7 linked regions of the Homo sapiens genome follow. The protein of the gene in region 4 interacts with the protein of the main gene of each other region in a pairwise test. Each region holds a gene or a part of one and is shown on either strand. Other genes may lie near its edges. The genes, in order: MID2, SSX2IP, PARD6B, FRMD6, YWHAG, PRKCA and SETDB1.

What was found.
Region 1: the proteins of FRMD6 (region 4) and MID2 interact in binary tests that used the Homo sapiens proteins (3 or more experiments, as listed by UniProt).
Region 2: the proteins of FRMD6 (region 4) and SSX2IP interact in binary tests that used the Homo sapiens proteins (3 or more experiments, as listed by UniProt).
Region 3: the proteins of FRMD6 (region 4) and PARD6B interact in binary tests that used the Homo sapiens proteins (3 or more experiments, as listed by UniProt).
Region 5: the proteins of FRMD6 (region 4) and YWHAG interact in binary tests that used the Homo sapiens proteins (3 or more experiments, as listed by UniProt).
Region 6: the proteins of FRMD6 (region 4) and PRKCA interact in binary tests that used the Homo sapiens proteins (3 or more experiments, as listed by UniProt).
Region 7: the proteins of FRMD6 (region 4) and SETDB1 interact in binary tests that used the Homo sapiens proteins (3 or more experiments, as listed by UniProt).

Annotation. Positions count from the first base shown.
Region 1 is NC_000023.11:107,828,866-107,832,365, forward strand, and holds part of MID2 (probable E3 ubiquitin-protein ligase MID2), read left to right. Parts: intron 1-3,500. UniProt on the Homo sapiens protein: E3 ubiquitin ligase that plays a role in microtubule stabilization. Mediates the 'Lys-48'-linked polyubiquitination of LRRK2 to drive its localization to microtubules and its proteasomal degradation in neurons.
Region 2 is NC_000001.11:84,683,962-84,687,461, forward strand, and holds part of SSX2IP (afadin- and alpha-actinin-binding protein), read right to left. Parts: intron 1-3,500. UniProt on the Homo sapiens protein: Belongs to an adhesion system, which plays a role in the organization of homotypic, interneuronal and heterotypic cell-cell adherens junctions (AJs).
Region 3 is NC_000020.11:50,734,580-50,738,079, forward strand, and holds part of PARD6B (partitioning defective 6 homolog beta), read left to right. Parts: intron 1-3,277; coding exon 3,278-3,500. UniProt on the Homo sapiens protein: Adapter protein involved in asymmetrical cell division and cell polarization processes. Probably involved in formation of epithelial tight junctions.
Region 4 is NC_000014.9:51,703,910-51,707,409, forward strand, and holds part of FRMD6 (FERM domain-containing protein 6), read left to right. Parts: intron 1-839; coding exon 840-1,026; intron 1,027-3,500.
Region 5 is NC_000007.14:76,331,492-76,334,991, forward strand, and holds part of YWHAG (14-3-3 protein gamma), read right to left. Parts: intron 1-3,500. UniProt on the Homo sapiens protein: Adapter protein implicated in the regulation of a large spectrum of both general and specialized signaling pathways. Binds to a large number of partners, usually by recognition of a phosphoserine or phosphothreonine motif.
Region 6 is NC_000017.11:66,683,613-66,687,112, forward strand, and holds part of PRKCA (protein kinase C alpha type), read left to right. Parts: intron 1-3,498; coding exon 3,499-3,500. UniProt on the Homo sapiens protein: Calcium-activated, phospholipid- and diacylglycerol (DAG)-dependent serine/threonine-protein kinase that is involved in positive and negative regulation of cell proliferation, apoptosis, differentiation, migration and adhesion, tumorigenesis, cardiac hypertrophy, angiogenesis, platelet function and inflammation, by directly phosphorylating targets such as RAF1, BCL2, CSPG4, TNNT2/CTNT, or activating signaling cascade involving MAPK1/3 (ERK1/2) and RAP1GAP.
Region 7 is NC_000001.11:150,957,363-150,960,862, forward strand, and holds part of SETDB1 (histone-lysine N-methyltransferase SETDB1), read left to right. Parts: intron 1-1,815; coding exon 1,816-1,985; intron 1,986-3,200; coding exon 3,201-3,500. UniProt on the Homo sapiens protein: Histone methyltransferase that specifically trimethylates 'Lys-9' of histone H3. H3 'Lys-9' trimethylation represents a specific tag for epigenetic transcriptional repression by recruiting HP1 (CBX1, CBX3 and/or CBX5) proteins to methylated histones.

The sequences.
Region 1 (3,500 bases), on a different chromosome or scaffold from region 4:
AAACCCTCAGCATTATACTTTTTTTTTCCTTTGAGACGAAGTCTCGCTCTGTCACCCAGGCTGGAGTGCAGTGGTGTGATCATGGCTTGCTGCAGTCTTGACCTCTCTGGCTCAAGCAATCCTCCCATCTCAGCTTCCTTAGTAGCTGGGACTATAGGCACACACCATCACACCCGGCTAATTTTTGAATATTTTGTAGAGACAGGATTCACCATGTTTCCCAGTCTGGTCTCAAACTCCTGAGCTTAAGGGATCCACCTGCCAAGTCCAAGTGTTGGGATTACAGGTGTGAGCCACCACACCCAGCCAACATTATACTTTTCAAAGAAAGCACTTCCTTTACCTTTTACTGAGTTAGTGGATTGACTGGGTGTAAGCAGGAATCTTAGCTTACTGAAAACCTTTAGCTTCCCACCCCCAGAGCCAAATCGTATCATTGTACGTAGGTCCTAAATCTGGTTTTTCTCCAATACATGTTCAACTGAATGAAAACATACATGCAACTAGGCATACAGAGTAATAATGATCAATTTAAGTTGAGGCTTGAATCATTTCTAATGCACTCTAACCTAACAATCTGAGTCAGACTAATTTGAAGACATAACCTCACCCATTTTTTAGCCTATATGGGGGCAGTTTGTTAGCTTCTAATGAAAAGTGTCATAAATAATTTGGGGTATGGCTATATAAGCATGATTAGCACCTAGTAGCAGAGTCAACAATATTAAGCACCTATAATGTGCAGAGGACCTCTGCTGATTGGGCTGAGGCCCCAGATTTAGCCCAGTATTTTGGCCTCCTGCTTGTTCCACGCCAAACTCCATACTTGCAACTCCAGGATTAGGTCAGGGAGGGGCTGTGCAGGACATGGGTAGAGGCTAGGGACATGAAAGGGTGGTTGTGTCCCTCTTATTTGTTTTCATGACTACTAGAATTCTCGTCTGGCATGTTGCACCCTGCAAGGCCACCTCTGGGAAGTACTCCTGTAAATCAGAGTGACTTGATTGCTTTATGAACATATCATCTGAATGGTGCAAATTGATTTAGATAAAACTGATTTAGTTAATCCCTTCCCTAAGAGCAGGGAAACTTGCTTCAACTCGCAGATCCTAAAGTGGTGCCAGTGGAGTCTCACAATTGCATCCAAATATTGCTCTGAGTAGTGAGCCTGTCCATTCCTTCATCCCTCCTCCCATAAAATCTGCTGACACCACAATAATTGACAAGGGAACTACACAAGGAGTATGTCTGTCTTCATCATTCAGCAAACCTCATTGGCTTGGTGAAGAGGAGAGAATGTTGTCTTCTCATTCTATCCCATAGAACTCAAGCTCTGTCTTTTCAGACAGGGACACAGAGCCCTTAAAAGGGTGAAGACAGGGCTGTGGGCACAGAATATGTCTCAAATGGCTGCTCTTGGAAATACCTGCTTGGTCTTGTGTGTGTCTGCCATTCAATCTTTATGAATCTTGGTAATATCCTTGCTGTTAGGCCATGGGGCTCGGCTGCTAGTAGAGGCCAGGGGGTGCTCCATTTCCATTTAGCATTAAGTTTTTGTCCTCTCTTTGGCACAAAAGCGAGAATGAAGCTCTGTGTTCATGAAGCACTCCTTACTCATTAAGCTGGGTGTCTTGACTTAGAACATTGCATCATCAAAATATGAGATGTAACATGTTGATACTGGATATACAACAGTTTTGGATAATTCAAAATTGTTTACATTTTGATAAATGAAATTTTGGTACCAAGATGGTGTTGCACTAACATCTGTACTTCAGGTCTCTCAAAAAATATTGTGTTCATCACTAAGCAGTGTACAGAAGAGACTAGAAAAGTGTTTCTCAACTGGTGTGTTGGGTCATGCTAGCAAGTGAGAAGACCAGATGAGTGGTGTTGAGACAAGAAATTCCAGCTGTAATTATCTTCTTGTACAGATAGCTAATCTACTTTTTATTTACCTCCTCAATATATTAAATATGTTCCTTTCTCCACTTTCATGTATTAAAACTCTGCTAAGAGTTTTCTGTGGGCTTAAGTAGTCTGTGGCTGTTTCTATTTGTTTCTCTCTTTCTGTCTTCCCCTTCTTTATGACCATAGGCAGATATAATCCTTTTGATGATGAATCTCCCAGATGCTGAGTTTTCTTTTAGAAATTCTATAAATTACTAAGACTACTAGATAGTATAAGATGCTTAAAGTGTGGGTGGTGGAGGGATTTTGAGTAATGTGCCAGCATCCCATTATTTCCTTTTCCTTGTGGGATTCACCTGAATACACTCTAGGATGCTGGTTCAGCCTAAGTGGGTTGGCAAAGTATCATTTGTAAGCATTATCCTACTTGGGTTCTGGCCTCCCTGCAGAGCTCTGGCTGCCTGACCTTGGGCTTTGTCTCAGCTTCCTTCCCGTAGGTCAGACTCCGCTGGTTGATGAACGGCATCCCCAGTCTCTGGATCATCGTCTTACTGAGACCGAACAATCTGATAACAAACCCATCATACAATCTGAAATCGTCCTGAAACATGAAATCCCAGTATTTGCAATTTGCCTGGATAGGAGCATAATGTATGGGCATGGCAGACAATGCTAATTCATGACAGTGAAGTGTCTTAATATATACAGCACAGAGATAGAAAAATGGTTTACGATCCAGATCCTTGATCACTTTGTGTATAGCCCTTTGTTCAGTGTTGCTAGGATCCATGTGGTTCCCAGGGAAGTAGAAGCTTGATTTCAAATAGGCCTCTGTTCTCTGTCCCTTGTTTCTGACCTGAACTTGGGGTCCTCTCAGCCTAACATTCAATAACATGTCTTACATACATATATTGCCATTTTTATTGTGTAGATGACTGCCTGTCCAGGTGAACCACTGAACATTTAAAAACTTACAAATATTTTGTTGGGTAACAGAGGTTAGGAAAAGCAATCCTAGAGGAGATGGAAAGCTGTACCAGTAGTCATAGGTAAATTAAGTTTGTTTTCCATTTGTTCCTCAACCCTGCAACTGCCAGTGTAATCTGCATTAAGATAAAGGTGTTATGAATTGTATTTAGGATTCCTGTCAATTATCATGTGTTACCTTGGCAAATCCATTTGTTGGTTACTTGGATTAACCTTTTGGGTTTGTAGCAGATTTAGGACTTCTAGTTCTGCTATTTTGATACTCATTTTAATGTTTATATGATGACTATCTTGTATAAAATACTCAATGTTTGGATTTAAAAACTAATTATTGAAAAGAACATACATTAATTCCATGTACTATAAAATATTAAGTAGGCTTTAATAACCTATTAGACAGGAGCTGGCACTGGTGCTCTCTGCCAGTCGGTAATCAGCCTCCAGTTCTGAGTTCTCCCTGTGCAGGATGAAAGTTTAAGAGAAAAGAAAAGAGACAGCCCTTCACTTGGAGAGGGGTGGGGATCCCAGTCTAAAAGTGAAGACATGAGCATAACAAATACCATGATCAGTCCCATGATCTTCCAGAAGTCTTGTGGAGGAGT
Region 2 (3,500 bases), on a different chromosome or scaffold from region 4:
CAACTTTTAAGGTTAAAAGTCAGCTAAGAAGTCCAAATCAAATTTTAAAATTACTATTTATTGGTATTTCACTCCTCAAATAATGAAATGGTAATAGCATCTACTAAAGGCATTGGAAATAACAAAGAAACCAAACATAATTAATAAATCTACTCATCGTTTTTTCAATGATTTAGCCCAAATTCAATCATTGGTTATAGTTGTCAACGTGTGGTCCTGGGACCAGCAGCATCAACATCACCTGACTCAATAAAAATGCAAATTATCAAGTGCCACTACAGACCTACAGATTCAGAAACTTTAGTGGTGGGAGAACCTCCACGTAATTCTGACAAAGTTTGAGAATCACTGCTGTGTTCTATAGAATGTGGTTCAGTATAAATTAGTATTCTATTTATATGCACTTTCAATTAGAGAACACCAAAAAGGAATTCTTATCTAAGGGTCCTACAAAATGGATTCCAAGAATGATGTAAAAGTGTTCCAAAGCACTAAATGGAGGCTGAAAATAACAGTCCTAGGGAATGCCTGGCTAAGCAGCTTATTAAACCTTAGAGGATGGGGGGAAACTCTGAAAAATAAACAGTTCATCAGCTGAATATTCATTTATCCTATTCACATACTCTACAGCCCAGCAAGTCCACTCCTAGTGAAACCCAATCGAAACTCTTGCCTACGTATGCCAGGAGGTGTGCACCTATACAGCAGCATTCTTCACAATAGCGAGTAGCACAAGAGTATCACCCTGGAAACAACCCATATACCACCAACAGGAGAATGGATAAATTATGCCATATGCACAAAATGGAATATTATGCAGTAATCAGAAAACTTCAGTGACACATAATATAAATTTCAGTATTATAAAATGAAAAAATTTTCAGAAGATAGGGCATGTAATATATACAGTTTTAAATTATGTGATGCAATAAAACTATAAAAGACACCGAGAGAATGATGAATATAGGATTCAGTAAATAGCTGCCTCAGGTGAGGGACAGAGGAAAAAGGAATGGAGGGGCCCACAGGGTTATGCACAGGGTTAGGTGGTACTTACTGTATTATTAAAACTATAAATGGACCAATTAAACAAACGTGTCATGAGCCAAGGAATATAAACTAATTCTTTACACCTGAAGTCCTTTAAAATGCTTTAAATACATATATATAAAATGTTCCTCCAATATTTCAAACAATTCTAAATTCTACCCAGTCAGTTTGGCTGTGGAGGCACCAAGAGCCCTGGGTCCTTGGCCTTACTGCCAACTCAGGGGTTAAAATGTTTTGGGTCCCAAAACCCAAAGCCAATGACCCTCTTCCTTTAAAAGTACAAGAACAGGCAATTTGGGCTAGAGTTTCAGAGGATCTATGAAGCCATCCATTTGCAAAGGATCCATGGATGGCAAGTTAATAACTCCTGTACTAGCTAATTATGTGAAACTGGTAGGAGAGAAGCTGATGATGAACTCAAGAGCACCTAATGCATGCCAGATGGGGCTCCATTAGCTGTTATCACTTAATCCTCACGCTAGCCCTAGGAAGGAGTAAAGATAGCACTGGTTTATTGATGGAAGAAACTGAGGCAACAGATTAGGTAACTTACAGTTACAAACCTGGAAGACAGAAATAAAATCCAGCTATTTAACCTGGAAAGACTAAAAACTAGCTATTTATGATTCCAAAGCCTCACAGGCCTGGTTTCCTCCTGACATTCAACAAATATGCTGAGCAAATGATATCAATTCTCTGAGCCTATCGCCTCATTATAAAACAACATGGCTAATGATGGGTTGTACTTACAGATTATTTCTATGATGTTGGCTTGCTTTTATAGTCTAGATCCTATGCAGGGGGATATTCCTGAAATTTGGCTATAGAATAGAAAATAAAATCGAAGGCTATAGAATAGAGAATAAAATAGATAGGAAAGCACAACCAGATTACAATTAACAGGCAAATGAAAAGTATAGGCAGTGGCTGGAACCCATCTTGAATTTTAAGTATCTACTTTACACTATTTAGGCTCTATATACGATTTCAAAATTATTTAGTCCTACAATTCTTTTAGAACAATATTTCTCTACAAATCTCCTCCAAACTTAATGCTTGCAAAATAAGTTCTATTTGTAGCACCGTGGCACAAAAATATATTCTCAGTGCTGACTGTATGCCAAGAACTACACATGAAGTAACTTAAATACTTTTTTGCTTTTTATCTTAATTTTTAAAATTTTTTTACAAAAAGCATACAATACTTTTATAATCTGAAAAAAAAATCTTTGAGACAGATATTATAGTAAACTGGGCAATTAATGGTCAGGGACCAGCTGGCTGACTTAGTCAGTGACTGAGGATAGTGAAGAACAGGTAAGAAATAATTCAGGACATGGTGACAAGTACACAAAAGGGAGGCATCTACTCTCTCACATAAAAACCTGTCTTTGGCACTTGACAGATAATAGTGTCATTTAGATAAAGGGAACAGAGGAGTAAAGTTAGTAAAACTGGGTTTGGGCAAATGTGTGGAGATAATGAGCTTTGTGTAGCTTACTGGGTTTGGAGATGCCCTTATGAGACATTCACATGGGGATAAACTCTAGGCCTAGAACTCACAAGACATCCGAGCACATTTAGATAGATGAATTCATAAAGAAAAAAGGGGCAGGAGAACAAACCCCAAAGAACATCAACATAAGCGAGTGAAGCAGACCCAGACACAAGAGATACAAAGAGACAGGGGAACGGACTTCAGGAAAGCCAAGGGAGAAGACTTTTAAAGAGAAAGGGTGATACACAGCAGCAAATGCCATAGAATGGGCAGGTTTTGAATTTTAAAAAGTGTTGAATTCGGTGATTAGTGACTTAATGACAAAGCTGAGGGGTAAAAATGAAAATCAGACTTCAGAAAGATGATCACCAAATAAGAAAAGGAAAATCACTTGTTCAAGAATCTCAGTTTAAAAGAATGTTAGTTTCTCTGAATGTAGAGGCTTTATTAGACGCTCATGGATAGATCTAGCATGACAAAAAAAAAATCCTGTCTTTAAAGTCTGTTCTTACTCAATTACAGCATTTTTATATCAAGTAGAAATATTAAGTGCTCAGTAAGTATGAGCTATTTTTCCAGGCATTGTTCTGGATACTAACCTATTTTTCTAATCACACCCCTACGAAGCAGGTATTGTTATTATCCTTCATAAATGCGACAACCAGGGCACAAGATCACATAGCTAGTAGTGTGGTAGATCAAACCGAAAATGTGACTCAAGAGAATATGAGAAAAGGATATGTGTGAAGCAAGAGTTAAAAGATGAGAACAACTGGAGTTAAGATTGTTCTGAATGTTTAACTGCTTGTAGTTTCATTTCTATTTAAAAACTTATTTTTGCTAATTTGAAAGACTATTTCTTCTCTCATCTCAGAATCCTACATTGCTAGAGTCTGACATTTTTATGTCTGACACCCAGATTCTGTACTGCATTATAACTGTGTTATTTCTC
Region 3 (3,500 bases), on a different chromosome or scaffold from region 4:
GAACACCTGAGCTCTAGTGATCCGCCCGTCTCTACCTCTCAAAGTACTGGGACTACAGGCGTGAGCCACTGCACCTAGCTGGTCCATTTTTCTCTTACTATTTTCAATTTTTTTTTATCTTTTTAGAGACAGGGTTTTGCCATGTTGGTCATGTTGGTCTCTAACTCCTGAGCTCAAGTGATATTCCCACCTAGGCCTCCCAAAGTGTTTGGATTATAGGCATTAGCCACCACACTGGGTTCCGGTCCATTTTTAGGATCTCTTTTTCTTCATATAAACAGTAATGTTGGCCAGGCATGGTGGCTCACACCTGTAATCCTAGCACTTTGGGAGGGCAAGGTGGGCGGATCACCTGAGGTCAGGAGTTCAAGACCAGCCTGGCCAACACGGTGAAACCCTGTATCTACTAAAAATATAAAAATTAGTGGGGCGTGATGGCATATGCCTGTAATCCCAGCTACTCCGGAGGCTGATGCAGGAGAATTGCTTGAACCTGGGAGGCGGAGGTTGCAGTGAGCCGAGATTGCGCCACTGCACTTCAGAGCCTGGGTGACAGAGGGAGACTCTGTCTCAAAAAAATAAAAAAATGCAATAAAGCAGTAGTGTCAACATTATTATCTTCACACGTGGAAGGGAAAAATAGTAATGATAAAAGAATGGAGAATGTAAATATACCTATAGTTCAATTTGTGGTACCAGCTAGTATGTGACTTTTCTTTGGTAACTGTTTTATCTTCCTAATTGTATCTCTAGTGTTGGGAAGATTCTTAATCAATAATCTTGATGATGTCCTTTAATAACCCTGGAACAGTCTTTGAGTCATAAAATTTCCTAATTATTATTCATAGGCAAATAGACTATGAAAATTAAGTTTGCATTTCTAGAATGTACCAACAGACACTGGGGGAAGGGAGTCCATACACATTCTGGATGGCTAGGGCAAACTAGGCTATGAAACAGTTGTAAATGGTTCACAAGTGAATAATTGCTGATTGAATCTTAATTTTGTCTCTTAGTGTTTTTGTTCATGTAAAAAGTTCCCTTAATCCTATTGTTGTGTTGCAAGAAGCATAACAATTTCTCTTGGGTTTTTTTTTCCCATGCCAATATTGGCAAAAGTGCAAATATACCATGAAGCCATACAATTTTTTATTGTTTTTATCATAACAGTTAAGCAAGAGAAAATATTGAGCGAAGAAATTTCATCCAAAAGCTTTAACAAAAACATTGAAGCCCTAAAATGTTAAATGATCAGATGTTATTCCCATTCATACATCAGGGGAAGTGATAAACCCTGTGGATGAATCAGCAAGCACTAGCAACTTCATGTTGTGATACCAGAATAAAGAAAATGGAGGAGAAACTGTGACTTTTGATAACATCATGAGACTAACTGATATGAAGGGTGTTCCCTGAGTTTTTATTTACTTTGAAATGTGAAGGTGTGACTAAACTTTTTGAGAGCCTTAGGTATGAGTCACCTTATTTTCTTGACAGATGTTAGTGTTTATGTTTCAGGAATGTGTTTTGGGAACTATTTTAATTTTTGTTAGAGGTAAGAGGTGTTTTTAGTGAGTTTTGATGTTAAAACCACTGAGGAGTATGGGTGTAAGCAGAGCAGGTGAACTTTAGATAGAGCAAAACCAGTGAATCCAGATGTCCCATGGGACCTTTGGGAAAATGAAGTGACATATTTGTAAACTCAAATTATTATGGTAGGGGCTTTCTCTACATGATGCTTAAGGCTGTACCAACAGTATTTCTCTTTTCCTTTTTTCTCTGGGACATAATATTTTTACATTAGTATTTCTTGCTAGTAATAGATAGGTGGAAGAAATATGAGTTCAGTGGTTAAACACATTAGGCAAACGTTCGTTTAAATATTTTTAAAAACCAACATAGGGCTTAAATGAGCCTTTAAAGTGCTGGTCTCCGCAGTGATTCCCAAGAGCATAATTATGTAGCGTTTCTCAAACTTACATGACTGGGACACTTTTTGAGGAAGGCAGATTAACTTTTCTTAGGTTTCCACGTTTGAGGAAATGCCATGTTATTCCCACAGTGTTATAAATCCTGTTTATCATGGACTAGATGAAGCCAGTCCTTAGTGTTTTGGTTTTTTTTTTTTTTTTCTTTTTTGAGACGGAGTCTTGCTCTGTTGCCCAGGCTGGAGTACAGTGGCATGATCTCGACTCACTGCAACCTCTGCCTCCCAGATTCAAGAGAGTCTCCTGCCTCAGCCTCCTGAGTAGTTGGGACTACAGGCATGTGCCACCACACCTGGCTAATTTTTGTATTTTTAGTAGAGACGGGTTTTGCCATGTTGGCTAGGCTGGTTTTGAACTCCTGACCTTGTGATCCTCCCGCCTCAGCCTCTCAAAGTGCTGGGATTACAGATGTGAGCCATCGCGCCTGGCCTCAGTTCTTAGTGTTGAATAAGAGTCACTTTTAATTATTTGACATTGGGAAAACAGAGGTGTAGGGAAACAGACTTCAGAATCAGAACTGTGAAGGTAAGTATTGGGCATGATGGAGGCTGTCTTCCTCCCCATTCCGCCCCATTTGTGTGATCTCTTAATACCTCCCTGAAGTAATTATTCTCTTTACCCACTAATTGGTGAGCTTCTGGAGCAGGCTCGAGGCTTTCAATCTCTAGGGCCTAGCACTGTGCCAAACACATAAACACTTTGTGCGTTAATTGGATAGTTATAGGACATACATTTGATGTATTACTGAAGCTTATTTTTTTCTGCATTAACATAGGGAAGATCATACCTTAACGCCACGTAGCTCACAGTTCTTTTTGTATATTTTGCTGTTGATTCTTACCACATACCATGAAATCCTAGTTCCATTTATGGGGGAGGACACTTAAATGCTTTCCTTTGGTCAAAATAAGGACTTGGACAAGTCTTTGGTACCCCATGATGCACCTGAGGAGAGCATTGCCGTCAGAGTCTGGGCTCCAGACAGGGTTTGAGCTGAGTCACTATGCAGAACAGTCCGCAGTAAGGCCTAGGTACCCCAGGGATAGATAGAGTTGAGCCTGCCTCTCTTGAAAGGAATGCTCTTCAGAGACACAGCAGTCAGGAGGCACATTCTTGTGCCTTTCTTAGGCTTTTTAAAATCCCTGATAGTAAGGTTCTTCACAATAGACAATCTTTCCTTAATTAAAAATACTTGCTCTGCTCGTTAATTTTTCTATGGCATGCATTTTCAAATTGGGTCCTTTTACTTTTTTTTTTTTTTTTAAGTAATATGTTTGTTACGTTTATAGTTTGGAGCTGAATTTCGTCGGTTTTCGCTGGAAAGATCAAAACCTGGAAAATTTGAGGAGTTTTATGGATTACTACAACATGTTCATAAGATCCCCAATGTTGACGTTTTGGTAGGCTATGCAGACATCCATGGAGACTTACTACCTATAAATAATGATGATAATTATCACAAAGCTGTTTCAACGGCCAATCCACTGCTTAGGATATTTATACAAAAGAAGG
Region 4 (3,500 bases):
TTACTTTGATCACAAAAGCATCCTATTTGCCAGTAAATATTTTTTGGAGCTTTTACCATGTTTTCCCCAGTCAGCATTTCTTAACGTATTTAATGATGACTGTATTTATTTCTGATCTCAAGAGATTGTAATGAGTGCTCTGTTAGTATTTCCTTTTGTGGGGAGTATAATAATTGTCGTGACATGTGCCTGTAAAAACATAACAGTAATGTAACATTCACTTCAAAAAAATCCCCAAAAAAAGATTTAAGGAAAGCATTCATTGCATTTCTTCTTGGAGAAGTTTAAAAAACGGAAAAGAAACCTTTGTTAAGCAAATTTTTTTCCAGAAGAGTATATATGCAAATACTTATAAAGGGCCTTAGAGTATTTGTAGTGTGTTCAGTTAAAAAATAATAAAAAGAACAGCAAAACACTGAAGCAGGATTGCTCCTCAGATTTTTCCTTATTTATGTCACGTGTGTAGCATCATTGTAGCAACATTAGTACAGACAACACATGTCTAGTTTCTATTCTAATACTTGTTCAGTGAAATATTTACCATTTTAGAGTGGAATGATTCAGACCTTTTTCTTCTCTGAATGAATCAAATGCTGTAAGCCTTAGGAAACGTTATTTTTATTGTCTGGATAGTCTGATTTGGGGTTCTGACCCCCTGCAACCTCAGTGAGGCAGCTATCAGATATTAGCTACAACCGCTTCCTTTTCAGTGAGGTGGGAGGGAGGAGCAGAAACAGAAGGGTTCCTGTCACCAGATGGAGAGAAGGATTTGGGTTCTGTTTACATGTCATTGGATTATTCCATCAAAATGTGAGTTCTGTTTTCTTTTATTTTTCTAGTGACAGAGCAGCAAGATACTATTATTACTGGCACCTGAGAAAACAAGTTCTTCATTCTCAGTGTGTGCTCCGAGAGGAGGCCTACTTCCTGCTGGCAGCCTTTGCCCTGCAGGCTGATCTTGGGAACTTCAAAAGGAATAAGCACTATGGAAAATACTTCGAGCCAGAGGCTTACTTCCCATCTTGGGTAAGCACTGTTTTCAAATTCGAAAGAGTGTTTTCTCTCGGGCATTTCTAGTTCGTAGTGTTGCTACTCATACTCTTTAAGAAATGGGAACACAGATGTTCTGTGGCCAAATTCTTTGTGATGCCCAGATATTTAATGCTTAAGAACGTGGTGCACATCATGTCTTCATGTACTTAGTCTGCTTATGGTGAGTGGGGTAGAGAATTGCCATCCATCCTGATAATACAGTGGAGCTTGGAATTTACCAGCCTCCTTTCAGCATTGACATGCCCTTGACCTTCTTGCCTACTCTTACCGAAGCAGTATTTTCTCCCTTTGAAGGCAGAAAAACATAACTCTTTAAAAAGTAAGATTATTCCTCGCTTTCCTTTGCTGCGAGAACAAGTATGTCAACTTCTGGCTCCGGCCTCCATGTCCTCCACTCTCGGGGAGGAACTAACCCCTTCTTTCAGCAAGAAAATGTGGGTTATTCCAACGTGAACTGTCTCAGCTGCGCTTTCTCCACTCCACCCTGTCTGTTTCTCTTCCCGTCCTTCCTCCATGTCTAGGCTGTATTTTCTGTCTCTCTTCTATATCATTAGCCCCTCCCCAAAGTAACTCTTCTTCAGTGAGAACATGCAAAACATGTTTGGTTCTCACCCACCCATCCTTGAGAAAGAAAGTGGGGAGGGAAAGAAGAGCTACTACTCTTGCCTTTCCTTCTCAGTAAAGCATCTTGAAGAGGTAGTGTGTATTTGATTTTTTCAGCTTCTTTACTTCCCACAAGTGTTCCTCAAGCCATTTCCATCTGCCTTCTTTCCCCATCAGTCCACTCATGGTGCTGCCTGTTAGGTTGCTTTATATCAATACAGTAAAGAAGTAAAAAATTAAATATGCACTACTTTTGCTTTATATTGACACCAGTTGCTTTATATTAACATATCCAGCAGACTCTTTTCACTAAATTTTGCTGCTGTACCTGACACTTAACTACTCACATCTTGGGAGATCTCATCCAAATTAATGCTTTTAACGATCACCTATGTGAAGGCAAGTCCCAAATCTGGTTTTTTCCCCTATATCCATAAGGTAGCTGTTTACCCATAGGCCGTTCAAACTCAAGATGTCCTAAATCAAATTCATTTTCTTGCCACCTCATTTCTACGTATTCCTACCTCTGAGTACGTGGGAGTCATACGGAACTCTGCCTTATCACCATTCCTTCTCCCTGTCCTGTCCCATCAACTGTAACACCTTGTAATGTCTGTGCTTGAATACCAATCACCCAGCTTAAGAAATAAAATTATCTTCTATTTTTATTGCCATTAGCCTTCCTAAATGTCCATTGCCTCCTCTCCCTGTCTTAGCTCCTGCTGTTTCTAGGTTCGTGTTCTCAGCAGCACTGTTGCAGAAACTTGTCCCTGCTTCGGTCTTTACTCCACAGCTTGCAGATGAGATGATTTTGCTTCTGACTTAAACTTTCAGGGCCTCCTCTGTCACCTGTGGAGTGAAGCTCAGGCTCCCATGCATAACCTAGAAACTCTCCAGATTATAGTCCCTGCCAGCCATTCCAGCTTCCTTTCTGGTTGTCCTGCACCTTGAACTTTAGGCTCTGGCAACATCCAGCCATTGGTGTGTCTCCATACTTACTGTGGTGTTTCATGCTTCAGGTCTTTCTTCTTGCAGTTCCTTTAGCCAGTGAAGCCCCTCTCTGTTTCACCTGGCTAACTCCTACTCATCCTCCGAGACTCAGCCCAGGTGTCGCTCCTTCTGGGCAGACCATCTAGGTGCCCAGTGCTCAAGAAGAACCTGGGAATAGTGTTTTACATCTTATTTTAAAATGATTTATTTCTTGCTCCCAGTAAACTGTTTCTTAGTGTGTTCTGAAAGACGGGCATAACCTTAACCTTTTCTATTTCATCAGCTCTTCATATTGAGGTACTCAGTAATTTTTTGTTGTGTGACTTAGAGTGCTTCATTTTTTTGGAGAGAAATCACAATGTCTGTCAAACTATTGCTGTCTGTAGCATGTTTGCATTCTCTGGTTGTCATCAGGTGCTCATTGAATATTGATTATTGAAATCCAGTTAGTATGCCAGGGCAACCAGTGTGCTGAGATATCAGTTTCCCCCACCCTTGGGATCACCAAAGCCATCTGCTTTAGTGCCCTTACAAATACTGTTTTCAGTGTGCTTTTGACCTGAAAAAAAGGTTGATAAATAACTGATTTAACTGATTACCATGTGAAAAGAACCTGGAAAGAAAAATCTGTGTAACTTGAGTTCTTAGCAGAACTTGACAACTGACTATTAATTCATCATATTTAATTCTCTGTAAAATATTCAATAGGAAGAAACAAAATGTCAATATAAAGACATTTTAAAACCAAAAAGTCTGTAATTTTTAAATTTTGATTATTTTAAGCACGACTCTTGCTCACATTGCATAATTCTTTCCATCTGTTAAGTTCCTTATGGAATCAGCTAAGACTTTAA
Region 5 (3,500 bases), on a different chromosome or scaffold from region 4:
AATGCAGCCCAACACAAATTCGTAAACTCTATTAAAACACTGAGAATTCTTTTTGCGATTTTTTTTTTTTTTTTAGCTCATCAACTATTGTTAGTGTTAGTGTATTTTATGTGTGGCCCAAGGGAATGTGGCCCAGGGAAGCCAAAAGACTGGACACCCCTGTACTAAACTCCTGGGGCATGGGGGAACTGAACTACCAGGAGACTTTTTTTTCTATGTTTGAATCATTATGTTCAGTATGTTGGCCCATGCCTGTAATCCCAGTGCTTTGAGACACCAGGTGGGGAGGACTGCTTGAGGCCAGGAGTTCAAGACCAGCCTGGCCAACATAACAAGGCCCCATCTCAAAAAAAAAAAAATTTTTTTTCTTAAATTATAAACGGGGGGTATGCTTGGCAAAAGTGATTACAGTCATTACTTCAAGCAGCATCTACTCAGAGATAATTAAATCAAAACATAAACCAAATCATGCTTATTAGTTTATGGCAGGCAATTCATTTTCTGAATGAATGATCAGCAAGTGCTACACGCTCAAATATTCTCTAAACTGATTAGTGGTGTTGTTAAAGTTAACATTTTCCTAGACATTACTGATGCTCTGTTTTAATGCTGGACAACGTTACTCCTACCAGCCGTGCCCTCAGTGAAACAGACTCAAAAGAGGGGAAGAATAGGGGGTGGGTACTACTTGAGTTCAGAGCAGAAGGAAACCAGGAAAGAGATGCTTTGCTCCACCACCTCTTGTTCCCGGCACTTCTGCAAACACTCCTCCTGCATGAATAAACACAGGCACCTCGTGTCTCATTCTGCACTGACGATCTGTCATCCAGCAGACCGCTGTCACTCATGCTGAATTCTGATGTGTCCACAAATAACGGAAGATTGGGCTTTTCCCAGCTCCATCATTCGCTAAGCAATCTTGGGGACAAGCCGCTTCATTTCTCTGGGCTTTGGTTTTCTTATCTGCAAAATGGGGATTTCTGCTTCTTTCATAAGGTAATATACAGGTATATCAGACAAATAAGAAAGTCTTTTTTTGTTCTTTTTGAGACATGGTCTTACTCTGTTTCCCAAGCTGAAGTGCAGAGGCATGATCACACCTCACTGCAGCCTCAAACTACTGGGCTCAAGCAATCCTCCCACCTCAATCTCCAGAGTACCTGGGACTACAGGTGTGCACCACCATGCATGGCTGATTTCTTTTTTTTTTTTTTTTGGAGACAGAGTTTCAAAAAGACCTGGTCTCACTCTGTTGCCCAGGCTGGAGTGCAATGGCATGATGTCGGCTCACTGCAACCTCCCCCCAAGTTCAAGCGATTCTCCTGCCTCAGCCTCCCGAGTAGCTGGGATTACAGGCGTGTGCCACCATGCCTGGCTAGTTTTTGTATTTTTAGTAGAGACAGCGTTTTGCCATGTTGGCCAGGATGGTCTCAAACTCCTGGCCTCAAGTGATCCACCCGCCTCAGTCTATGGCTGATTTATTTATTTCTTTATTTAGAGATGGGGTCTCACTATATCAATCCGCTGGAAGTGCAGTGGCACTATCTTGGCTCACTGCAACCTCAGCCTCCCAGGGCTTCAAGCAATCCTACCTTAGCCTCCTGAGTGGCTGGGACTAAGGCACATGCCACCACACCCAGCTAATTTTTGTATTTTTCTGTAGAGACAAGGTCTTGCCATGTTGCCCAGGCTGGCCTTGAACTCCTGGCCTCAAGTGATCCACCCACCTTAGCCTCCCAAAGTGTTAGGATTACAGGTGTGAGCCACTGCATCCAGCCATTTAAAAATTTTTAGTAGAGACAAGGTCTCACTATGTTGCCCAGGCTGGTCTTGAACCCTTAGTTCAAGTGATCCTCCCACCTTGGCCGCTCAGAGTGCTGGGATTACAGGTGACAGCCATTGTGCCCAGCAAAGTCTTCTTGAAAAAGTAAAATGCTACAGAAACATGAGGAACTACTTTTAAGAATACCCTGAATAATTTTCCTTCATTTTAGTTCTCACCACAGGGGATGTCTACATTTCCTAACGATCTCCCAGCTCATCTTCCTGTATCGAGTGTCTCTTCTCCGTTTCATCCTCTTCTCTATATTAAGCGGAAACTGCCTTAGCTGCCTCACATCGCTTCCTTTCCATAAACCCTAGTTCCATACAGCCTGAAAAAAAACTGCCCAGACTTGGCTTTGGAAGGAGCTGAGCCCTTGGGCGCTGCTGCCACCCATCTCTGGCATACTTTACTGAGTGTGCGAATGCTGAAGACAAACCGCCCCGCGGTGCAGCCCTCATGACTGCCTCCAGTGCAAGGAGAGGCCAGCGTGCCGAAGGCCACAAAGATCAAGTTCTGGCCTTTCCCCTAAATCATGTTGTCCTTATTTCAAGGGCCAGGAGCTATTTAAAGCTCAAATTATCTCACCAGTCCTGGGGGCACTCCTCCTGCCACAAATGAAGTCTCCCAGCAGTGCCCAGAGAGGCAATCTGTACTTATGTAAAGTCTGCCTAGCTGTCCCCAGACACATTGGAACAAGGAGATTATGAAATGCCAGGATCACCTTTGGATACAGTAGCTCGACCACATTTGGAACACGCCCAGATGTTCCCTGCCAGTGAAAAACTAAGTTAGAGGGGAAACCCTTCAGCTCTAAAAAGTCTAAAGAAAAGTTGTTCTGAACACCTTAAATCAAAATTTTTAAAAATCCTTTATCCTTTAGATCATAATTACTTGCATAAGAATCTGTTATTTTTAAATTAAAATAAGAGATCCCCACCATATTAGTTTTAAAGGTCAACAGATAACCTCTTAAAAGAACAAGTTATTCTAATAGTGTCTAAAATGATTTAATCAAGACAGAATGACAGAATGACTATTCAATGTGGGAAGATACGGGATCTTGTATCATTTGGGAAGGGAGGTAACATTTTTCAAAACAGTCATTAAATTTGTTGTTGTTGTTTAAACAGAGACAGGGTCTCACTCTGTTGCCCTGGCTGGAGTACAGTGGTGCAATCACAGCTCACTGCAGCCACGCCACAAACTCCTCTGCCTCAGCCTCCAGAGAAGCTGGGACTACAGGCATCTACCACCACGCCCCCTAATTTTTGTATTTTTTGTAGGGACCAGGGTCACCCTATGTTGTCCAGGCTGGTTTCGAACTCCTGAGCACAAGTGATCCTCCAGCCTTGGCCTCCTAAAGTTCTGGGATTACAAACATGAGCCATTCTGCCTAACCTTCTTCTTCTTTAAAAAAAAAAAGAAAGAAAGAAAGAAAAGAAAAGAAATGGGGTCTCACTCTGTTGCCCAGGCTGGAGAGAAATGGCGTGATCACAGCTCACTGCAGCCTCAACTTCTCAGGCTCAGGTGATCCTCCCACCTCAGCCTCCCATCACACCCTGGTTAATAAATTGTTTCTACGAATGCAACACTTGTAAACATGGTCCCCAAAATTTACTGTCATGGCTGTTGGAAAATGTAGAAAGTTTCAGTTTTTATTCCCCAGAGTTGTATG
Region 6 (3,500 bases), on a different chromosome or scaffold from region 4:
TCGGGGGGATAGAGTCTCACTGTGTCACCCAGGCTGGAGTGCAGTGGCATGATCTCAGCTCACTGCAGCCTCCGCCTCCTGGGTTCAAGCGATTCTCGTGCCTCAGTCTCCTGAGTATCTGGGATTACAGGTGCCCACCAGCACGCCCGGCTTCTTTTTGTATTTTTAGTAGAAATGGGGTTTCACCATGTTGGCCAGACTGGTCTCAAACTCCCAACATCATGTGATCCACCTGCCTCAGCCTCCCAAAGTGTTGGGATTTGACTCCACATCTTGATCACATCTTTCCCTTGTTTCTCTCTTCTGTCTCTAGCCCTTGTTCTCATCCGCTTCCCCACTTCAATTTTCCTCTTATTTTCTCTTTCCTAGCTTCCCCAGCTTCCCCTCTTCCATCTTCCTTACAACTATTCCTATGAGTAATGCCCCCTAGCATTGCCTCTTAGCCTGACATTCTTGAAACCATACAGTTGAAACCCTGTTAGAACATTACCACACTGTACTGTTTTCCCCGGCATTTGCTTACCACTCCGTAAGCTGTTGGTGCAGTTTCTGCACATCTAAGATTGTTCTCCACCAGTAACTTGTATTAAGAGCAATTATGATCATCACTATTGTGCTCTCACCGAGTGCCTATCACTGCTCTAAGCACTTTACATGGATGAGCCTACATAATCCTTGCTTGAAGGAGATATAATTTTCCAGATGAGGAAACTTAGGAAGATAAAATAGCTTGTCCACAACCACAGAGTGGCAGAGCCAGAATTCAAATGCAGGCAGCCTTGCCCCAGATCCTACACTCTGAGCAGATGGGACCCTAAGTTAGTTGCTCGTAATCCTGATTCAGGTGTCCTGGCATGCCATGAGTCACACTCACACAGGCTGTTCTCTGCTGTGATAAGAAATTGAAATTTGGACCCACTATTTGCTTCAATGACATTTAGAATTGATAACTCTTTTTATTTTCAACTTAAATGGTAGTATCTCAGTAGGACACTCACAGCTTTAAATCCCATCAAGATTTTAACTCATCACCATTCCGAAGAGATCTTACTTAAATGATTTTTTTTGTGTGTGTTGTCTGTCAGGAATATAAATTGAAGATATAAAAGCCAGCACCCGCAATAATTCTGCAACTGGTAGGAGGCAACCCAGGACCTCTTGGTGACCTTAATAAGGGTCTTCTTTGGCTTATCCAGGATGTGACCTTCTGCAGCCTCCAGTATTAGACATTCCAGGGCATTTTCTGCCTTTTAAAAAGCATCTGATTCTCATTCTGGTGTTTAATCAGAGAGAGACCGTTGGCCTCTTTCCATTCCTCATGGGAGAGCTCCATTTTTGTGCTCACATTTTTCATCTTTGGTGATACTCAGGGTTGATGTTTTAGTGGGCTAGACTTTCTGCATTGGATTAAAACCTTTCACATGAGCTTGGTGAATTCTCCAGTGACCAAGTCCCCTGGGGGCCTCCAACCCTATAGATTCCAGCATGATAAGAGTGGAAAGGAGTCCGGAACATCATGCCTGGGGTATAGTGAGCACTCACACCATGGATTTATTTTTTCATTTTCCAAGCCCCCAACCATGTAAGGTATTTTATAAACATTATTTTATTTGATTCTCCCAACAATTCTATACCACTGGAATTATGTCCGTCTTCATTTTTCTAGATGAAGAGACAGAGGCTCAGAGACTAAGCTTCCCAGTGCTCAGGGTTACATGGTGAAGGAGGCAGAGTTTGCATGTACACCTGCTGAGCCACAGGGACCATGCCTATGTGTTTTATTTGTGTGCTATCTGCTCCCTGAGATGAATGAGGTTAGATATTTTCTTAGGAGAAGAAATACTTGGAAGGCACAAATGGGGTATGACAAACTATGTTCAGCTTCTCTGTGGCTAGCAGACCTGAGCTAGCCCCCTCCCCCTCTGTATTTGAATATAGTCCCATCTGTTACCTACCTATGTAAGGCTTCCAGGTAAGGAGGATGTAAGGCTGTTGGCTGGCAGGAGGCAGAACACAGTAGATCCACAGACTAGTAAAGGCAATGCCTGTCTCTGACTTCCGATCTTAGGGCTGTACCTCCCTCATTTGTGTCCAAAGACCCAACATCTTTAGGGTTCTCCCCCTGCCTCCTCCCCATCTAACCCTGCCCACTGACAACTCCAGTGCCTTCTTCTCAAGTTCTTCTGTAATTCTTAATTTAATAATCAAACTATGCTGATAAACTATGCTAATTGCCTAGATCTGTGGTTCTGCAACTTTTATGGACATCAGAATCACCTGGAGGCTTGGTAAACACAGATCATTGGACCTCACCCCAGAGTTCTGATTCAGGAGGTGTTGCCAGTGCCGCCGGTCCAGGGACCACACTGTGGGAACCACTGAATCAGGGAGCCTGGTCCCAGTTATATGTGTGTTGATGGTGTCTGACCAGTTGGGTATCTGATAATTCAGCCTTACTGGGAAAGATGCCATGGGAAGATAGGAAGGCATTTGAGATAGGAGACTCAGGCTTTTGTCCCTTCATCATAGCAGTAGATAATTATCTTTTACGTTGACGTGCAGTGGCTTTAGACAGCTTCTCATGGTTGTGAGCCTCTGCCAGCTCTTAAATCTTTGAGCCTGTTTTCCTCTGTGGATGAAATGGCCTTTCCTTCTAATTATTTTTGATTCCCATATCAGGTTTCTCAAGCTAAGATTGCATTGGAAGCACCTGGAGGTCTTGTTAAAGTGAGGATTCTGAGTTATTAAGTCTGAGGTGGGACCCAAGGTTCTGCATGTCTAATGAGCTCCCAGGTGATATAGATGCTGCCGGTCCATGGACCAGCAATTCTGAGTTACAACTGTATACAGCAGTGGTGCTTGCCCCTGCTGCCCAGTAGAATCACCCAAGGAGCTTTTAAAAACGAATACTTGAGCCACATTCCTTGGAGATTCTAGTTTAATTCTGGGGATTAGAATTTTTAACTCCCCCATTCCCCAACCCCCATGTGATTCCAATGTACAGTCAGAGTTGGAAGCCATTGGCCTTTACCCACAAAAAGGGATAACACCTTCTGGGAGCTCAGGTGCGTGTGTGGCACCATAGACCAGGTTGGGCTGGTCGCTTCCATGCAGGGAGGGTGCACCATTACTCCTGGGGAGCTGCAAAGGTCACCTGGGAATCTTGTTAAATTACAGATTCTGCTTTGGCAGGTTTGGGGTGGGACCTGGGTTTCTGCATTTCTAATAGATATCTTAGTGTTGCTGATGCTGCCAGTCCAGGCTGGTGCTAAGTCCCAAGACCCACCCACAAGGGCCCACACGATGCCCATTATCTCTGCCGGTGGTGGCAGCGGGTAGCTTTTCTCATGTCGAGTGTTAGAGGCTTTTGGCTTCCACCATCTGTCTCCTTAAACGCCATTCTGACGTCTCTTTTATTCAGCTTGGTATTGACACAAGACAGCGGGCAATATAGGTCTGTTCTCTTTTTGTAATATTTTCTTCCTTCTCTCTTCACAGTA
Region 7 (3,500 bases), on a different chromosome or scaffold from region 4:
GCTTTAAGGATAGAATATGTATATATAAGGCATTCACACAATGCCAAACACAAAAGTATATGCTTAGTAACTAGAAGCTGCTCTTACCATCTTTATCTGGAGAGAGGATATGACTAAAATCGTGAACTAACTGAGCTGTTGATACATTTCCAAAGTAAATTTCTTCCATTGATTTTACATACCAAGAAAATAAGTAAAATTCTAACACTGGGCAAATAGAGCAAAAACATTGTTACCTGAAACAATTAGTTTTCTTAGTATAACTGTGTTATCTTCCTTTAATGTTGGTATGTGCTAGATCCCTCTGATTACCTTTAATGGTTGTTTAAAAATAATTAAAATTTTTTTCTTTTTCAGAGATGGGGTGGACTTGCTTTGTCATTCAGGCTGGAGCGCAGTGGTATGATCATAGCTCACTGAAACCTCGAACTCCTGAGCTCAAGTGATCTTCTCACCTCAGCATCCTCAGTAGCTGGGATTACAGGCATGAGCCACTGCGCCTGGCCCAAATTCTTAAATTAGATAGAATATGAGCTCCCCTGGGCTGGGCACGGTGGCTCACACCTGTACTCCCAGCCCTTTGGTTCGCTAAGGCAGGCGGATCACATGAGGTCGGGAATTCGAGACCAGCCTGATCAACATGGATAAACTCCATCTCTACTAAAAATACAAAATTAGCAAGGCACGGTGGCGCGTGCCTGTAATCTCAGCTACTTGGGAGGCTGAGGCAGGAGAATCACTTGAACACGGGAGGTGGAGGTTGTGAGCTGAGATTGCGCCATTGCACTCCAGCCTGGGCAATGAGAGCGAAACTCTGTCTCCAAAAAAAAAAAAAAGAGCTCCCTGAGGGTAGAAATTATGACCTTTTTTTTTTTCTTTTTTTTCTTTTTTCTTTTTTTTTTTTTTTGTGACAGAGTCTCACCCTGTCGCCCAGATTGGAGTGCAGTGGCTTGATTTTGGCTCACTGCAACCTCCGCCTCCTGGGTTCAAGGAATTCTCCTACCTCAGCCTCCCAAGTAGCTGGGACTACAGATGCATGCCACCACACCCGGCTAATTTTTTAATTTTTATTAGAGACGGGGTTTTACTGTGTTAGCCAGGATGGTCTCACTCTCCTGACCTCGTGATCCACCCACCTTGGCCTCCCAAAGTGCTGGGATTATAGGCATGAGCCACCACGCCCAGCACGATCTTTTTCATTGTTATGTTTCCAGTGTTTAGTAGAGCTCTTGGTGTTTAATAATTGTTTACTGAATGAAAGAATGAAAATCAACTTTACCATGAACATTAGTCACAGTTCCTCCTATCTCTTTATTCCCTTTCGTATCTGTTATGTTGGCCTCTGTTTTTCTCACATTTATTTATTTTTATTATTATTATTATTTTTGCTGTTGTTAGTAAGAAACCTCACCAGGAATTTCTCACATGTCTTTATTTTGTGCATCTATTTCTACAAATTGACCGTCCATATAGTGCTTATTTTAATGGCTCTGTAATCTGTATTCCCATTATAGTTTACTTAGCTTTTCTCCAGGTGTTAGGCACTCTAGCATTCACTTTTATGAGCTGTCTTGCTATAGACATCTTTATAAATATTTCTCCGCCCTCTAAATTTTTTCCTTGGGCTACATTTCCAAATGAATCAAAGAGCATAGATGGTTCAATAGATCCACTCACTTAGATCATTACCTAATTTTTAATCTTTATCCACAACACATTATAAATGATGATAGCTTAAGAATTATAATAGTTTTATGGATTTTTTTGTGCTCTAGTGATCATACCGTGATTGATTTTATTCTAACCTCCTCCCAGGGTATATGAGTGTAACAAACGCTGCAAATGTGACCCAAACATGTGCACAAACCGGTTGGTGCAACATGGACTACAAGTTCGGCTACAGCTATTCAAGACACAGAACAAGGGCTGGGGTATCCGCTGCTTGGATGACATTGCCAAAGGCTCTTTTGTTTGTATTTATGCAGGTTGGTGATAAAATATAAGGGTTGTTTCCTGAGACTGGGACATGGTAGGGAATTGAACCAGAGACAAATTGAACATAAGAAGAAAGTGCTTGACATGTGAACTGGAGTAAGAGGAGGCCAGGGACTTCTACAAAGAACGTGATGAGTGATGTACCTGTCTAGCTAGACCAGAGAGGGACACAAGTGTTTCACAAATAAGAGAATGAAAAGGGATGAAATTTTGGACATGGTGATATTTCAGAGAACAGACATGATTATAGAGTCCAGTGTATCATTTTCTCCCATGTCACTCCACTCAGAGATCTTTTAGCATAGCCCAGTACTCTGTTTCAATAAAGTAGAAGAAATGGAAAGACAGAAAGGGCAAGATTTAAAATGACAGTAAGTTCTCCATACTTTCATAGTTAAGATACAAAGGGAGGTATTATCAAAGAGAAACACTGGGCCGGCGTGGTGGCTCATGCCTGTAATCCCAAAACTTTGGGAGGCCGAAGTGGGTGGATCACCTGAGGTCAGGAGTTGGAGACCAGCCTGGCCAACATAGTTGAAACCCCATCTCTACTAAAAATACAAAAATTAGCCAGGTGTGGTGGTGGATGCCTGTAATCCCAGCTACTTGGGAGGCTGAGGCAGGAGAATCACTTGAACCCTTGAGGCAGAGATTGCAGTGAGCCGAGATCATGCCACTGCACTCCAGCCTGGGTGACAAAAGCGAAACTCTGTCTCAAAAACAAAACAAAAAAAAAAACAGAAATGAGAGACCAGAATGGAGGCTTTTTGACTCTATATGCTGGTAGAGCGGGTATTGATGGAATAATCCTTATTCTTTCTAATAGGTCCCCGTGGCCGGGTGCGGTGGCTAACACCTGTAATCCCAACACTGTGGGAGGCTGAGGCGGGCAGATCACCTGAGGTCAGGAGTTCGAGACCAACCTGGCCAACATGGTGAAACGCCATCTCTACCAAAAATACAAAAAAAATTAGCCAGGCATGGTGGCGTGCACCTGTAGTCCTATCTACTCAGGAGGCTAAGGCAGGAGAATCACTTGAACCTGGGAGGCAGAGGTTGCAGTGAGCCGAGATCGCGCCACTGCACTCCAGCCTGGGTGACAGAGCAAGACTCCATCTGGAAAAAAAAAAAAAAAAAAGCAAACAAAAAAAAAAACTAATAGGTCCCCATAACCCTAGAAGGCCTTTAATTCTCTTCATTCTCAGGCAAAATCCTGACAGATGACTTTGCAGACAAGGAGGGTCTGGAAATGGGTGATGAGTACTTTGCAAATCTGGACCATATCGAGAGCGTGGAGAACTTCAAAGAAGGATATGAGAGTGATGCCCCCTGTTCCTCTGACAGCAGTGGTGTAGACTTGAAGGACCAGGAAGATGGCAACAGCGGTACAGAGGACCCTGAAGAGTCCAATGATGATAGCTCAGATGATAACTTCTGTAAGGATGAGGACTTCAGCACCAGTTCAGTGTGGCGGAGCTATGCTACCCGGAGGCAGACCCGGGGCC